2 linked regions of the Homo sapiens genome follow. The protein of the gene in region 1 purifies or fractionates together with the protein of each later gene. This does not show direct contact. Each region holds a gene or a part of one and is shown in the gene's direction. Other genes may lie near its edges.

What was found.
Region 2: the proteins of CD99L2 (region 1) and TSPAN33 purify together in Homo sapiens (affinity purification with mass spectrometry; one large-scale study listed by BioGRID and IntAct). This does not show direct contact.

Annotation. Positions count from the first base shown.
Region 1 is NC_000023.11:150,773,169-150,776,668, reverse strand, and holds part of CD99L2 (CD99 antigen-like protein 2 isoform 1 precursor), read left to right. Parts: intron 1-375; coding exon 376-495; intron 496-3,500. UniProt on the Homo sapiens protein: Plays a role in a late step of leukocyte extravasation helping cells to overcome the endothelial basement membrane. Acts at the same site as, but independently of, PECAM1.
Region 2 is NC_000007.14:129,161,707-129,165,206, forward strand, and holds part of TSPAN33 (tetraspanin-33), read left to right. Parts: coding exon 1-30; intron 31-687; coding exon 688-815; intron 816-1,126; coding exon 1,127-1,201; intron 1,202-2,767; coding exon 2,768-2,863; intron 2,864-3,142; exon of another isoform or gene 3,143-3,252; intron 3,253-3,500. UniProt on the Homo sapiens protein: Part of TspanC8 subgroup, composed of 6 members that interact with the transmembrane metalloprotease ADAM10.

The DNA of each region.
Region 1 (3,500 bases):
AGATAATCATGAGGCCAATAGAGGGGTGTAGCCATTTGAAGGAAGGAAGCATGAAGATTGGGGTGCCGGGGGAAGTAGCCCAGTGGGAAGCCTGCAGGGCGTCAGTCACAGAGAGCTCTGCACCATTTCCGTGTCTCCCTTTCAAGCTCCTCAAAAGTGAAGCCCTTACAGAAAACGAGAAGTCCTAGGCAAATCCAAGGGGCACCATGTCTTTGTAATGCCGTAGATCTGTGTGGCATGGCCCTCTCCTGCTGGCTTGGGGGTTGGGGGCGTCTAGTAGTTTGGTGCTAGAGGAGAAGCAGGCTCCCAGGCTGCTCCCTGCGGTGCTTTGTCTCTGACCTCACCTGTCCTCATTTCTCCCCCTTCTTCACGCAGGCATGGTGGCAGAGCCTGGCACCATTGCCGGGGTGGCCAGCGCCCTGGCCATGGCCCTCATCGGTGCCGTCTCCAGCTACATCTCCTACCAGCAGAAGAAGTTCTGCTTCAGCATTCAGCGTAAGTGCAGCCACCCACTCGTGGCTAGGAACCAGCTGGCAAGGTCTTTGGAGGGAAAGGGGCCAGGACAGATCCAGATCCCTCCACAGCCTGCCTGAGACCCACTCCCAAGCAGACTTCCTGGGACGGGGGTGGAGGCAACAGTTTTGGAAATCCCTGGGGACAGATCTGGGCTGAATTAAAGTGTAAACCACCCTGCAAGAGCGCGTGGGGCTGGCCCTGATGACCTTCACCTTCCAGGGCCCCAGCTCCCAGGGGTATTTCTGTGGGGACAGAGCTCAGTGACCACTGTGATGTTTCCTTCACGTAGAATGGGAGGGACCCTGGACTGCACCCATAGCTTCAGACCTCAGCCAAGCGGATGAGGGCCTTTGGAGGCCCTGCGTCACCAGCTCCCTCCCATGCTGCTGGCTCCCTCAGGAGCAGAGGGCAGCAGTTCCTGGGGGTTTGCAAAGCACGGCCCTTATTGCTCTGGCAGTGCCCCCGTCACATCGTGAGAAGTCACTGCCTGGTGCTCTTCCCCCTACGAGCCACAAACTGTATGGAATCATTAATTGCTCCAAAGAAGTAGGAATGTGAGAGAAAGAATGGTGTGGTTCCCCCCCGACCCACCACCCTTTACTAGGTTTTTAAAAGACAGTTTTCATCTCATGCTGTAGCTGTGAGTCTGGAAGTCATAGATTAATGGAATAGTTACAAATGGAATCCTGTCTTCACCCATCGGCGCCCCACATCAGGCAGCCCTGTGGGGATGCTGTTGAGGGAACAAGACCTTGCTTGTCCCTTTTGTAAGCACAGATGGATGCTCTGTCACTGTTTGCTGAGTGGAGCGTGTCTCCAGTTCAAGGCTGGCAATTTTCAGTTCAAGTGACAGAATGTGACTCAGCTGTAGCTTGTCTCTTTCCACTCCTTCCCCGGCCCCTTTGATGCAATGGGAAGCTTAGAAGCAACCCACGTGGGTCTTTCCCTACCCTTGCTGTGGCCCTCCGCCCTTAAGTCTAGCCTGAGCTGAGCTTCCCAGAAAACTAACCTGGGTCCCAAGATGCTTTACGGAAGTCTCCAACTGTTTATTAATCTGACCATCATATTTGTTTGCTTCACTCTTGTAGAACATTCTTGACCAGGGCGACACACACAGCAGGCACAGCAGTACTGCAGGAGCACGTTGACATGTCAGTGCGCAGCCTGCGAAACTGTTCATGGCCACCCTGCTTGAGATCCCACGGACCCACCGTGGATCCGGAAGCTTGACTGTAGAGTGGCATGAGCAGGGAATGGGTCAGACAGAGTCCAGGGCTGGGGAATGGATTGTTTTTAGAGTTACCCTTTTCCCTCAAATCAAAAATCAAGGAATCCTCTAACTGGTGAAAAAGATGGGAATCCAACCTTCTAATTGCCTGGACACTGATATTTAGAAGGAGACATTGGGCGAGAGGGTCGAGTTGCATTTAGCGCGGCGGGGGAAGTTTTGCATCAGCCTCCTGGGCTGTGCCTGGAACAAGGAGCCCAGGGCAACCAGGTACATAGTCACAGCCCTTCATCTCTGACCGTGTTCTTATTGCATTTGGCAAAAAAGTAGAAGCCGCCTAATACAGGGGTTTTCTGTTCAAGAGGCCCCAAGGCTGTCCTCCGTGGGCTCTCCCTCCGGCAGGTGGATTGGAACGAGATGGGGATTCTGGGACACAGCTCAATCCACATGGCCTTCCCCACGGCCAGGGATCCTCATTTGAAACTGCTCTTTGGGCTGGGAGCTCTCCATACTCGTCTCCCCTCCCTGTTTTAGAGGAGAGGGAGCAAGGACCTGGCCAGGGACACTTTGGGAGAACAACTCAGAGCATCCCGCTTGCCAGGAGAGGAGTGAAGATTTTGGATAAGCATCCAGGTTCTCAAGGTGGCCTCTTGGGAAAAGATAAAAGCCCAGATTTAGATTAAACCAGATCTGTAGGACAAAGTTAGAACTGACTGACAGAAAAATCTTTCCTGTATGACTGACTAAACTAGTTGGTAACTAAAATGTCATTGAACGAATATTTATTATTAAAAAAAATCCTACACCCAAAGATGTCCTCAAAATGGAGGCCACAGTGGCAGGGGAGGTCCTGGTGGCTGGCTAGAGGGCTTCTCCTGTGTGGACCTTTGCTGGAGAGCTTATTTGGCTGGAAGCACCATGTCAGATACATTTTGGCCTGATTTTCTGATGATTTCCCCTTCTAGGTGGCTGGGGTGGCAAGGAGGTTTGGTTCGTAGCAACAAAGTAGTTGTGAGCTCTTTGAACGAAAAGGCTAATGCCCTGGGAGCCAAAAGGTCTCACTGGTGAGGTTTGCCAAAGCTGTATGAGTTCACTGGGGCTGCCAGAACAGAGAGTCACAAACTGAGTGGCTCAAAACAACAGAAGTTGATTCTCTCCCAGTTCCAGGGGACTCCGGATGTTCCTTGGCTTGTGGCCATATCATTCCAATCTCGGTTTATATCCTAAATCCAGAATGACCTCATCTTAACATCCTTAACTTAATTACACCTGCAAAGACCCTGTTCCTGAATAAGGCCATGTTCACAGGTTCCAGGGATGAGGACACACGCAGATCTTTTTTGGCATGGGGCGGGGCATTCTTCACTATAGCATCGTCAGCCTAATGGTGAGATGCGACAGTCCACAGTTTTCACATCCATGCCCATTACAAAACTGGGTGAGATGGCCAGGCCAAAGGATGGCTTTGAGACTTTAAAAAGCATGCTGGGTAAAAGAAACTATTTAAACTACAGGTCTGTAGTTCCTCGTAAGAGCAGTGTCCCGGGCATCGTGCGCTTGCCAGCTACCTGCCATTGCCTCTCTTCCGGGCTCTGCACATGGGTGAAAAGCCAGCCCTGTAACTCGGCCTGGCAAGGGCAGGGCCATGGATGGGGAGAGTTCTTGGGCTGAGCAGACAGGGTGGCCGGCTTGGGCCCTCTCCTGCTGGGCCCTCAGTTTCCCCATCAAGGGTATCTCGACTTCCTTCTGCTCTGGA
Region 2 (3,500 bases), on another chromosome or scaffold:
GTGTCTACGCTCGGCTAATGAAGCATGCAGGTGAGCTGTAGCTCTCCCTCCCTGCCCCCACCTTGTGCCATGCCCCTTTCCCCTCTGCCTCCTTCAGCCTGGCCCTCACACATAAGCTATGGGGCTAAAGGAGGCAGCCTCCCTGGAGCCAAATCTTCATGGTCTACGTAGGTGTCAGACCCCCCCAGGCCAGTGCCCCTGGATTTCCCTGAGCCCCTCTGAGTCTTCCAGGATATGCCTACATTTGAGGCTTAGGAAGTGTGTGAGAAAGAAGGTAGGCCCCTGGGAGCAGAGAGTCATCAAGGGCTTTAGCCCCTCCCTAGCTCTGTCCTGGAGAAACCCAACCACCATTCCTATTTCACCACACAAGTCACCAGGAAACAGAATCTGCAAAGCTGGTGAGCCTAATGCCATTCCAATTCTTTTGCGGAGCGAAAGCAGCCCCTCCTTAAGCCCAGGAATAAAGGCTTTTATTTCTTTAGTTCCTCAAATTAAATGCCACAACCCTTCTGGGCCCTTTTTGGTTCTCCCCATGGGACAGGGGTACTGCCTCCCCTTAACCTTCATCCAACCATAATGGAGATTCCCCCACCAGGGGAAGGAGAACAGTTTGGGGCACCCTCCCACCCCATCCAGGGGTTCCTCAGTGGGCACCAGGCTCAGGCTGAGGGCCGGCTCCTTTTCCAGAAGCAGCCCTAGCCTGCCTGGCAGTGGACCCTGCCATCCTGCTGATCGTGGTGGGTGTCCTCATGTTCCTGCTCACCTTCTGTGGCTGCATTGGGTCCCTCCGCGAGAACATCTGCCTCCTGCAGACGGTGAGTGGTCAAGGCCCCACTGGAAAGACCCTGGCCCTCTCCCCATCATGCCTCTTAGCCTCCCACGGCCCTTTGGTTGCCTTGTCCTACCCTACCCCCAAGCCTGTGCTGTCCACCCCTCAGTGCAGAGCTTAGCCCGGGTGACCCAGCACAGGGTGGCCACCCCCAAGACAGTGTCCCAGAGGCAGCTGCCTTTCTCATGTGTGGGGCATCTGGGAGAATTGCCTGGCAGCTCCCAGCATCCCCTTGGCCCTGGAAGGGGTTGCTGCCATGAGTGGTCCTAGACGCCTCTTCTTCCTGCTGCTCCACAGTTCTCCCTCTGCCTCACCGCTGTGTTCCTGCTGCAGCTGGCCGCTGGGATCCTGGGCTTCGTCTTCTCAGACAAGGTAACACTGGGAGCCAGGAGGCCTCCTCAGGTGTGACCCAGAGGGAGGAAGGAAGGTTCCTGCCCATGTTTAGCCTGGTTAATTAACCACAGCTCCTTCCCCTGAGAAACATCAGTCGTTGAAAAGTTCATTAGGGGTGAATGAATAGCCTGTAAACTCATCATATTTGAAGAGAATTTTAAGATCATAAGGTGCTTTCCTCTGACAGTCTGAGAAGCTAACAGGGAAGTAAATTATACAAACACAAAGTTAAAATAACTTAGAAACTTTAATAGCAAATGACAGAATCAAACTCAATAATCAAGTGGACCACTGACAATATGAAGAGCCTCTTATTTCTTTTAAAAATTGTTTATTGAGATAAACAGAAGGAAGGAAGGGGGAAGAGAACAAGATTTTGTTTTGAGGTTTATTTTTCTTTCTTTCTTTTTTTTTTTTTTTTTGGTTGTTGTTTTTGTTTTTTAAGAGATGGGAGTCTCACTAGGTTGCCAGGCTGGCCTTGAACTCCTGGGCTCAAGTGATCCTCCTGCCTCCATCTCCTAAGTCTCTGGGATTACAGTCATGTGCCACCATGATTGGCTTAATAAAAGGTTTTGAACAATGCTTGCCATATCTGGAAATGGTCTGCCATTCAGTGACAGTCCTTTTTAAGAACCAGAATGTCTTTCCCAAAAGGCAAATGATTGCCAAGGGCAGACTACAAAACTAAGGAAAGAAAATTTGAGAAAAGTAGTGGGGCAGGAAGGAAGAGACTATGGTAGAAAATTATGAAATTGGGCCAGGCGCGGTAGCTCATGCCTGTAATCCCAGCATTTTGGGAGGCTGAGGCGGGCAGATCACTTGAGGCCAGGAGTTCGAGTCCAGCCTGGCCAACATGGCGAATCCCTGTCTCTACTAAAAAACACCAAAAAAATTAGCCAGGTGTCAGGAGGCTGAGGCACAAGAATTGCTTGAACCCAGGAGAAGGAGGTTGCAGTAAGCTGAGATCGCGCCACTACACTCCAGCCTGGGCGACAGTAAAACTGTATCAAGAAAAGAAAAGAGAAAGGGAGAGGGGAGGGGAGGGGAGAAAATTATGAAATCGAGAGCCACTGAGTTAATTCCGAATTTCGTAGTCCTCCTGGCTTACAGTAAGATCCTGAAATGATGTATTAAATAGCTCTGTTTTGAGTCTAAAGAGATGCAATTATCTAGTGTCCACTAGAGGGCAGTGCCTCAGCTCAGTAAGCTACTTTCTGCTAAAAAAATTAAAAATTAGTTTGTTTTTATCAGTCAACAAGTATTTTGTGATAATAGCATTCAGAGATAGATACACATTGGTATATCTTGAAATGTGTCTCTGAAAAGCTTCAACAGCAGGTCCAGCATTTCTCCTGCCCACTGGTACCTGAGGGCCCTGGGATGGGCTTTGGAACTGAACCGGCTATCTTCCACCATTAGGACTCGGTTCTGATTTCAAGGCAGACTCAGTTAAGAAGGATGATCCCTGTCTACTGTTATTTTTGCTGGAAGGAGCAAGTTAGGGATTAGTCCTGTGTTCTGATTCCTTGCCCATGTCTCCGGCAGGCTCGAGGGAAAGTGAGTGAGATCATCAACAATGCCATTGTGCACTACCGAGATGACTTGGATCTGCAGAACCTCATTGATTTTGGCCAGAAAAAGGTATGGGTCAGCCAGTGGTCTGGGGGACTGTGGGTAAAAGTGAATGTCATCCCAAGAGATGCCTCACCCTCTATGCCTGTGGGGCTCTTCATTACCTGCCAGGTAATGGCTTCTGGGAAGGGGTTTGGCAAAAAAGCACACGTAGCAGAGTGCTTTAAATGTACTTTTAAAGACACAGAACAGTATATATAGTAATCTACTGTGTTATAAATGGTTACCTACAGGGGGTGAGGAACTGGGCAGATTCTTGAATATTACCTCTTCAAAAGTGACATTTTAGGCTGGTCCAAAGGGAGTGAGTTATCTCATTTGATTGTTCACAGTCAGCTACAGATCCAACTCCTTGTTCTACTCTTTCCCCCCTTCTCACTGCTGCACTTGACTAGACTAAAAAAAAGAAAATTACATTTAAAAAATTGTGATAAAATTTACATAATGTAAAATTTACCATTTTTAAGCATACAGATCCGTGGCATGAAGTACCTTCAATTGTTGTGCAACCATCACCACCATCTCCAGAACGCTCATCTGCCCCAGATGAAACTCTGTATCCATCAAACACTAACTCCCCATTTCCTCTCTTGAATCTCTGTATCCATCAAACACTAACTCCCCATTTTCCTCTCTTGAAACTCTG